Regions from separate parts of the Homo sapiens genome. Here region 2 is linked to region 1. Evidence: fine-mapped expression QTL. A gene starts in region 1. The other region holds a variant in brackets. All regions are shown on one strand. Distances are from middle to middle.

The links. PIP is the estimated chance that this variant, and not a neighbour inherited with it, causes the effect. A credible set is the group of variants that fine-mapping cannot tell apart.
Region 2: its variant is the best candidate, but not a certain one, in a credible set for the expression of MCCC1 in whole blood (TOPMed, PIP 0.70).

What each region holds. Positions count from the first base shown.
Region 1 is chr3:183,097,135-183,102,371 of GRCh38, forward strand. It overlaps MCCC1 (methylcrotonyl-CoA carboxylase subunit 1), which reads right to left and starts at 2,362. Exons shown (of 19, transcript NM_020166.5): 1 at 2,218-2,362. The coding sequence starts at 2,306. RefSeq lists an enhancer at 2,288-2,427.
Region 2 is chr3:183,003,702-183,008,938 of GRCh38, forward strand. No RefSeq gene overlaps it. Among named protein-coding and RNA genes, the nearest start is that of DCUN1D1, 26 kb to the left of the region's middle. The variant G/A (reference allele first, on the strand shown) is at 3,047.

The DNA of each region.
Region 1 (5,237 bases):
AGCAATGGCTTAAACAAGATTAAGAAGCTGCTTCCCCGGAGCTTGCAGTGAGCCGAGATTGCGCCACTGCAGTCCGCAGTCCGGCCTGGGCGACAGAGCGAGACTCCGTCTCAAAAAAAAAAAAAGAAGCTGCTTCCCTGATTCAAGGTAGCTCTATACCAGCTTATTGTCATGTCTATAATTCTGCCACCAGAGATTATTTTCTGTGAGCTACTAAAGATTCATAACATAAAAATAATGTAAACTATCTGTGCTGTTAAGATTTTTTTGTTTTTGTTTTATTTGAGATGGGATGTCACCCAGGATGGAGTACAGTGGTGTGATCATGGCTCACTACGGCCTGGAACCCCTGGACTCAGGCCGTCCTCGCCCTCCTCATCCTCCCAAGTAGCTGTGACTACAAGTGTGTGCCACTACGCCTGGCTAATTTTTTAATGTTTTGTAGAGATGAAGCCTCACTGTGTTGCCCAGGCTGGTCTTGAACTCTTGAACTCAAGCAATCCTCCCACCTTGGATCCCACAGTGCTGAGAAACTGCTGAAAATACAGGCATGAACCAAGTCTCCTGGCAAAGAGTTTTACTTCTATAAGCCATTAACAACTCTAACACTCTCCAGAGTGACATACTTGAGGATAGTTCTTTAGACAATAGCTAAGCTTTGAAAGGGAAGACAGGAAATGGGTCTATGGTACTATCCTGAAGAGCCCTGGAGGCCTAAGAAAAGAAAAACCAGAAGAACAAGAAGAACATTAACATTACTTACACCAACTTTTTTTTTTATTTTTTTATTTTTTATTTGAGACGGAGTCTTACTCTGTCGCCCAGGCTGGAGTGCAGTGGCGTGATCTTAGCTCACTGCAAGCTCCGCCTCCTGGGTTCACACCATTCTCCTGCCTCAGCCTCCCGAGTAGCTGGGACTAACAGGCGGGACTATAGGCGCGTGTCACCACGCCCGGCTAAATTTTTTGTATTTTTTAGTACAGACGGGGTTTCACCGTGTTATCCAGGTTGGTCTCGATCTCCTGACCTCGTGATCTGCCCGCCTCGGCGTCCCAAAGTGCTGCGATTACAGGCGTGAGCTACCGCGCCCCGCCAACTTCCAACAACTTTCTTATGTTTCTCTGGGGCACTCCTACAATTAAGTAACTAAAAAGGGCATCTACAATATTTCTGGAAAATAAAAGCAAGCAAACGTTCATATAAATGGTTGAGTTTGCATTTATAGACTGATCTTATGTACCAGATTGTGCTTAAACCTCATTCCATGAATTAATTCATTTAGTTTTCACAACCCAAGGTACTCGTATCATCTCCAAGGTGAGGAAATTAAAGAAGAAATATTAAGTAACTTACCCAAAGTCACACACCTAGTGAGTAGCTAACTAAGACCTCAGCCTTGACTGCAGAGTCTGTGCCCTTGAACACTAAACTGTCAATCTTTCCAGAATGATGAAGGATGATAACGATGAAGCAAAAGAAGACAAAGAAGCAAAGCTATCTACAAGCCTGAGGGTTTTTTCACTGCCAGAGTTATTGCCACCAAAGCTTAGAGCTCAAAATTTGAAACAGAGCTGGAGTCAGGTGAGCTAGACTGAGTCATCTGATAGCGTTGTTCAAACTTGGGTACAAGAGTTTTTGACAAAATAATTTCCCAGCTCTGTGGAAGGTACATTTGCTCTTCTTGACAACTTCACTCTTCTAACAATGAGAAGGAACTCCAGGAGTCTTTCTCTGAACTGGACACCTGATGGGGCACAGCTGAACTGAAAAATGGCTTTGAGGGCATCCCGGCCCCATTTCTTACTAGCTGTGTTTCGTTGAGGAAGTCGTTGATCCCTTTGGGCTTCCCCGGAACCGGATTATAACAACGCTCCCACCTAAGGGGTGCTGCGAAAGCCCGATGTAAACGGCTACGAGCTGCAGCGACGGCGAGGGGAGCCTGGAGGATGGCGGGCCCAGTCCTCAGAAATGGAAAAACAGAAGCCAAAGGCGCGCTGAAGCGTGGATGTGCGGAAGCGGGGAGAAAGGGAAGGGCTGGTGGGGATGTCTTCCTCCCGACGCCGTGACTGCCGGCAGAACCCCTCCGAAAGTGCCTGGGGTTTTCCTACCGTCCTCCCCACACCGACCCTGGGTTCCGCCGCACCTCCCACCGCTCACGCGGGTCCGTGCACCCCTCGCTCCCGCCTCTGCCCACTGAGCCATGGCCCCTCCACCCACCTCGGCGGCAGGAGCAGGCTCGGGAGACGATGCCACCGGTTCCTCTCCGCCGCCACCAGCAGCACCGACACCGCAGAGGCCGCCGCCATGTCCCTGGAGCCCGGCCACTCCGTGACTCCCCAGTACAGAGGCAGCTGCGTCCCACACGCCAAACCCGTTCCTCCACTACGAAGCCTCGTGACCCCCGCCGGCCACCGTCGGAGCCTGAGCCTACCTTTGGGCTGATCCAAGAATGTGAGGGCGTCTCCACGAACACCAATCAAAGACCAGAGCCCGGCTTCAGTAGCGACGATTGGGCAGTCTGGCCACGTGCTCGTGGGGGTGTGGCCTTTGTTTCTGCGTCCCCTGGGGCCTGCTCTGACTAAGGCAAGGGTTTTCTCCATCCTCCCCCTCTTGGTTGCCTGTCACTGTTTCTTCCTGCATCCCGTGGGGTTTCTTCGCTCTCGTCACCTTCTGGGAGAAGAACCCTGGGGAAGAAGCCAAATGCGGATGGACAGCAGGATACACAATTCTCTAGTGCTCTCAGGGATGAAAAAATAAATAAGCTAAAGTGAAAATCTTTAAACCACCTGAGCTTAAAACAGGTATTCTAACTGACTATTGGGAAAAAGAGGAAGTCAAAGAGCAAACTGAGGAACATCTAGAGAATAAAGAAACTGTAAACACTACATGTAGATGCTTCATGAGGAAAGCAGGAGGGAGAAATTAGGGAAGATAAAGGAATAAATAAATGAATTCAGGAAACCAGTGTCAAAGGACTAATAAACCCACAGGTTCACAAAAAATAAAATAGTTATCTAATCAGAAATAGAGAAAAATGCACATTTGACATGATTTAAAAAACAAGCAGGGGAAAATCACAGACACAGGAAACAAATTATAGATTTGTAAGATGCTAATTTTGCTTAACTTCAAGTGAACTTAAAACTCTGGATGAAATGGATGATGTTACAAGAAAATACAATTTATCAAAATAGATCCTGGAAGAGACAAAATTTAAGCAAACCGTTACCACAGAAAAAATAGAGAAGTTTATCAAAGAACTATCCTTGCTACCACCATGGCCCACTTTCACCTTCACCTTCACCCCTAAAAGTTACAAAAGCCCTCCATGTCTTGCAAGAAAATTCCACACAAATGAGTAATTGACTCAAATGCTATTAATTCTGTCCCAGAGCACAAAAAAGATGGAAGTCTTCCAAACTCTTTTTAAAAAGTAAACATAACTTTGATACCAAAATCAACAAAGATATCACGCACACACACACGACAGACCAATTTCACATGTAAGTATCAGTGGAAAAATTCTAAATAAAATATTAACTACGCTGGGTGCTGTGGCTCATGTCTTGTAACCCCCCATTGAGATGTGACAGCGTGCTGGCAGTCCTCAGAACCCTCGCTTGCTCTCGGCACCTCCCCTGCCTGGGCTCCCACTTTGGTGGCATTTGAGGAGCCCTTCAGTCCCCCACTGCACTGTGGGAGCCCCTTTCTGGGCTGGCCAAGGCCGGAGCCCACTCCCTCAGCTTGCAGGGAGGTGTGGAGGGAGAGACACGAGCGGGAACTGGGGCTGTGTGCGGCACTTGCGGGCCAGCTGGAGTTCCGGGTGGGCGTGGGCTTGGTGGGCCCCGCACTCGGAACAGCCAGCCAGCCCTGCTGACCCCGGGCAATGGGGGACTTAGCACCCGGGCCAGTGGCTGCGGAGGGTGTACTGAGTCCCCCAGCAGTGCTGGCCCACCGGCGCTGCGCTCGATTTCTCGCCGGGCCTTGGCTGCCTTCCCACGGGGCAGGGCTCGGGACCTGCAGCCCGCCATGCCTGAACCTCCCACCCACTCCATGGGCTCCTGTGCGGCCCAAGCCTCCCCGATGAGCGCCACCCCCTGCTCCACGGCGCCCAGTCCCATCGACCACCCAAGAGCTGAGGAATGCGAGCGCACGGCGGCGCAGGACTGGCAGGCAGCTCCACCTGCAGCCCCGGTGCGGGATCCACTAGGTGAAGCCAGCTGGGCTCCTGAGTCTGGTGGGGACGTGGAGAGTCTTTATATCTAGCTCAGGGATTGTAAATACACCAGTCAGCACCCTGTGTTTAGCTCAAGGTTTGTGAATGCACCAATCGACACTCTGTATCTAGCTGCTCTGGTGGGGCCTTGGAGAACCTGTGTGTCGAAACTCTGTATCTAACTAATCTGATGGGGACGTGGAGAACCTTTGTATCTAGCTCAGGGATTGTAAACGCACCAATCAGCACCCTGACAAAACAGGCCACTGGGCTCTACCAATCAGCAGGATGTGGGTGGGGCCAGATAAGAGAATAAAAGCAGGCTGCCCAAACCAGCATTGGCAACCTGCTCGGGTCCCATTCCACGCTGTGGAAGCTTTGTTCTTTCGCTCTTTGCAATAAATCTTGCTACTGCTCACTCTTTGGGTCCACGCTGCTTTTATGAGCTGTAACACTTATCACGAAGATCTGCAGCTTCACTCCTGAGCCCAGCGAGACCACGAGCCCACCGGGAGGAACGAACAACTCCGGACACGCTGCCTTAAGAGCTGTAACACTCACCGCGAAGGTCTGCAGCTTCACTCCTGAGCCAGTGAGACCACGAACCCACCAGAAGGAAGAAACTCCGAACACATCTGAACATCAGAAGGGACAGACTCCAGACGCGCCGCCTTAAGAGCTGTAACACTCACCGCGAGGGTGTGCAGCTTCATTCTTGAAGTCAGTGAGACCAAGAACCCACCAATTTCGGACACGCCATCACTTTGGGAGGCTGAGGTGGGCCTCCCAAACTGCTTAAGCCTAGGAGTTTGAGACCAGCCTGGGCAATATAGTGAGACCCGCATCTGCACAAACATTTTTTTAAAAAAACTGGGCGTAATGATGCACACTTGTAGTCCCAGCTACTCGGGAGACTGAGGCAGGATCACTTGAGCCCAGGAGTTTGAAGCTGCAATGAGCTCTTATCATGCCACTATACTCCAGCCTGGGTAACAGAGTGAGAGAATGTCTCCAAAAAAGA
Region 2 (5,237 bases), 93 kb before region 1:
GAGAAAGATGCATTTTATAAATTGTAATACAAAAATTGAAGATTTGCCTTGGATTAACTCAAGATAAATAACTTCAAATATCTACACACATGCTGGATGTTCCCTTCTGTACCTCCCTCTACCTGTTTCTCTTGTCCATTTCTCCTCCAATCCTAGTTCTTTATTAGAGTGGACAAATACGGGTTTGTAGAAAAACAAAATTGAGAGCCAGGCACAATGGCGCATTCCTGTAATCCCAGCAATTTGGGAGGCTAAGGTGGGGGATCACTTGAGCCCAGGGGCTCGAGACCAGCCTGGGCAATGTGGCGAAACCCCATGTCTACAAAAAATGCAAAAATTAGCCGGGTGGGGTGGCGCACACCTATAATAGTCCCAATTACTAGGGAGGCTAAAGTGGGAGGATCACCAACCCCAGGAGGCAGAGGTTGCAGTGAGCCATGATCACACCACTGCACTCCAGCCTGGGCGACAGAGACCCTGTCTCCAAAAAAAAAAAAAAGGCAAAAATGAAGTAAAATATAATTTTCTCTCATTAAATCTTACTTCTCTTTTTGCTTAAAATAATATACTATGCTATAATAATACTATAACTTTTTTTTTTTTGAGACATAGTTTCACTCTTGTTGCCCAGGCTGGAGTGCAACAGTGCTATCTCAGCTCACTGCAACCTCCAACTTCCGGATTCAAGTGATTCTCCTGCCTCAGCCTCCCCAGTAGCTGGGATTACAGGTGAACGCCACCACACCCTGCTAATGTTTGTATTTTTAGAAGAGACCGGGTTTCACCATGTTTGCCAGGCTGTCTCAAACTCCTGACCTCAGGTGATCTACTTTCCTCAGCCTCTCAAAGTCCTGGTATTACAGGTGTTAGCCACCACATCTGGCCACTATCACATATTTAATAACATGTCCTTACACATTTAGGCCTTTACTGTATATTTTCTGAATATATTTGAAAATCATTCATTCATTAGCTCATTCAACAAGTATTTATTGAAGACCTATTTGATCCAATGAGTATTTTCCCTAACTTAGAAAAGGGCCAAATGATTTCTTAAATTATGAAATATAACAAGTATACATAAAAGTGCAAAAACTAGGCCAGGCACCATGGCTCATGCCTGTAATCCCAGCACTTTGGGAGGCCGAGGCAGGTGGACTACCTGAGGTCAGGAGTTCTAGAGCAGCCTGACCAACATGGTGAAACCCCATCTCTTCTAAAAATACCAAAAATTAGCCGGGCGTTAGTGGCGGGTGCTTGTAATCCCAGCTACTCAGGAGGCTGAGATTGGAGAATCACTTGAACCCGGGAGGTGGAAGTTGCAGTGAGCCGAGATTGTGCCATTGCACTCCAGCCTGGGCAACAAGAGCAAAACTCCACCTCAAAAAAAAAAAAAAAAAAAAAAAAAGCAAAAACCCAAGTGTGCAGCTTAACAGATTGTTGTGAAATAACCCCCTGCGTAGTCACCTTCCTACCTAGGTCAAGACACAGAACATCACCAGCTCCCCAGAGCACCAACACTTTCATTCCGGACACTACCCCTCCCAGCCCTCCAGTGGTCACCAGGACACAGGCCTATGTTCCATGATACTCAGAAACCTCCAGGACCCCTGCTTGTATGGGCCCCTTCCAAGGCCCTGGTCATCTGATTTTTGTAAAATTTTAAAAGTAAACATTCTACCACATTTGGCTAAGACTGCCTTGTACTTTCAAAACTATTTTTGTATATGTCATTTCACACTCTTTTTCTTAAGTAAGTTCTCCCCAAACTGTATAAGCTTCAGGACCTGCAAAACCTGGATGTGCCTCTGGAATTACTTTCCTGTTAAGTATTCTTTGCTTCTAGAGGGATTACACAATCTGAAACTTCATTTTCCAATATGAAGTGTTCCAACTATTTCCATGGGCGCTAAACTTTGGCTGATCAGGTTGCTACTTGGAGAGAAGAGCTGACTTACCTTTCATGGGGCATGGAAAGTAGTTGGTGGTTGAGTTTCCCAGCAGTGGACCACCAGAGCTGGGTGATACCTCAGCTTGGCTTGCTGCTTTGTTTTTATTTTCCCCATCTGCCCCTTCACCCTGTGCACCTTTCCCGTCCTTTCTGTGTAATTAATTGAGGAAGGGAAAGAGTGGTAGTCTCTGTAGAAACCTGTTTGGAGACTGTGGTTTCCACAGCATGTTAGATGACTGACATGGAATCTCAGATACTCCTCTGGATTTAATTTGACAGCAATGAAACACTCAATAGTGTTTTGAAAGCAAAGGACCTGCCGGGCGTGGCAGCTCACGCCTGTAATCCCAGCACTTTGAGAAGCCAAGGGGGGCGGATCACAAGGTCAAGAGATAGAGACCATCCTGCCCAACATTGTGAAACCGTGTCTCTACTAAAAATACAAAGATTAGCCAGGTGTGGTGGCACACGCCTGTAGTCCCAGGCTACTTGGAAGGCTGAGGGAGGAGAATCGCTTGAACTCGGCAGGCAGAGGTTGTAGTGAGCGGAGATCTTGCCACTGCACTCCAGCCTGGGGGACGGAGGGACAGAGTGAGACTACATCTCAAAAACAAAAACAAACAAAAAACAGAAAGCAAAGGACTCTTGGGGAAAGTGTCCAGGGGAGAGAAGGGAACTCTCATACATAAATTAATTCTTATGAAAACCCCAGAAGTAAGTAATAGTGTTATGGGAAAGGGGTTCCAATCCAGTCCCCAAGAGAGGGTTCTTGGATCTCGCGCAAGGAAGAATTCAGGACGAATCTATAAAATGAAAGCAAGTTTATTAAGAAAGTAAAGAAACAAAAGAACCAGTACTCCATAGGCAGAGCAGCCTTGGCTTGCTTCTTTGTGAGGGTGGCCCACGGAGGGGCAGCAAGGCTGGTGAATCACCTCCCTGGCTAGTTCCTCCAAGGCAGAGCTGCCAACCAAGGCCAACTTGGTTCAGCACACAGAATATTTACCACGAATCTAAGAGTTTGCCAAAATTTCAAAATCAGGAGATTTCACGCAAAAAGTTGGAAGATGTGACCGCCCTGGGCCCACATTCCCGCCT[G/A]GCCTGGCACTAGCTGGGTGGGGCTGAGGAGTAGCTGCTCTCCAAGAGCCCTGCTCGCCAAACCTCTCCTCCCCTTTCCCCCATGCTACCTCACTCACTGCTGTCTGTGTGCTTGTCCCTTTCACATTTGCATTTGCAAAGCCTGTTCTAACCTAACATGGTTTCCGTAGTGATCTTTAAACATTAAATTTGAAGCTAACAAGGAACAGGTTCCCTCAAAATACCCCAAGATGACTTTCTTGCCAATATTCCCTGAACTCTTTACAAAGTGGCCAGCAAGGCACCTCCCCAAGTGGAGTTAAACTATGTAAATGTACACAAAACAAGTAAGATTGGAAATATCCAAATGTTCATCTCCAGTGAAATAACTTTCCAGCCAGAATCAGTAAGAAGCAGCTAAGCCTAACTAACTACAGATCTGATCTGTGGTTCTTGATTTTTCATACGTATAAAAATCTCACCGGACGTCTTGCTGAGCCTCACCCCCAAGATTCTGATGCAGGAGATGTAGGGTGGGGCTGAGAATTTGCATTTCTAATAACTTCGCAGGTAGTGCTGCTGCTGCTGGCCCTGGACTACCTTTTGAGAATCACTGATGCATGCCACTCAAAATGCAGTCCTCAGGCTGGGCGCGGTGGCTCACACCTGTAATCCTAGCACTTTTGGGAGGCCGAGGTGGGCGGATCACCTGAGGTCGGGAGTTTGAGACGAGCCTGACTAACATGGAGAAACCCCGTCTCTACTAAAAATACAAAATTTGCCGGGCATGGTGGTGCATACCTGTAACCTCAGCTACTCAGGAGGCTGAGGCAGGAGAATCGGTTGAACCTGGGAGGCAGAGGTTGCAGTGAGTCGAGATCATGCCACTGCACTCCAGCCTGGGCAACAAGAGTGAAACTCCGTCTCAAAAAAAAAAAAAATTTAATTTAATTTAAAAAAAGCAGTCATCGGGCTGCAAGCCTGGCAGCTTGTTAGAAATGGAGACTCTCTCAGCCCTTCTCTAGACCAGTGGAATCGGGGGGCTGCAGGTGATTAGTAGGAATGTGAAATTTTCAGATGCACTAGACCAACTCATTGTTCCCAAACCTTCCTGGTCAAAACAACTTGGGGCATTTGTTGAGTCTACAGAATGCCAGGCCTTTCCCTTAGAGATTCTAATTCAGAAATCTACTTTTGGCAAGCACTCCAGGTAATTCCTGTCATCAGGGAATTTTAGGGAAAACAGGCTAATGGTATTAATACATCTAAAGAAAGAATATGTCAACAAAATGGAGATGAGCAAGTGAAGGAGGAAGATGGGAAATCTGAGGGGAGAGAACTCCTAGCGTGTGTCTTCAACCTGTAGCCCCCGTATGCGTTCCTTTTGCAGAGAGAGATGTTATCAAATTGTCGTATCCTCTGCAGAACCAAACCATACACCGTATTCCTTTTATTCGGGCCCCTTCTCATCAAGGAACCTCGTCATTATAATTTGGCTTCCATCCTCTTTTCACCCCGGGGGAAACACGCAAGCCAGAGCAATATAAATATTCTGATTTGAGTGAGAGGTACATTTCTCCCTGTGAATCAAGAAATCATAAAAAGGCCAGGCACAACGGCTCACGCCTGTAATCTCAACACTTTGGGAGTCCGAGATGGGAGGATCGCTTGAGCCCAAGAGTTCAAGACCAGCCTGGGCAACAAAGGGAGACTACAAAAATAAATAATAAATACATAAAAATTAGCTAGGCATGGCAGTGCATGCCTGTGGTTTCAGCTACTTGTGGGGCTGAGGTGGGAGGACCACTTGAGCCCAGGAGGCTGAGGCTGCCATAAACTGTGATGATGGCCACTGCACTCCAGCCTGGGTGACAGAGCAAGACCCTGTCTAAAAAAAAAATAGAAGTAAAAAAGAAGAAATCATAATTAAATGTTACATTATACTGTTGATACATTATACTGTTTGTTTTATTGGTGTATCTAAGAAATCAAGCCACTTTTGTTTTAACAGCAACATAAAATTTCTGTTTGAGAAAGAGACAAATACTTTTGCCCATAAAGGGGTTTCTTAAATGTGGATTCCACTGTGCAGTTTTTAACTTCTTTAAACATTCATTTAAGCAAGTCAGATTTTCTTTGGAAAGGAGAATTACATTAGCAAATAATAAAAATGTGCAAAAAATGCAAGAATAAAAACATCTGAAAAAGCAGG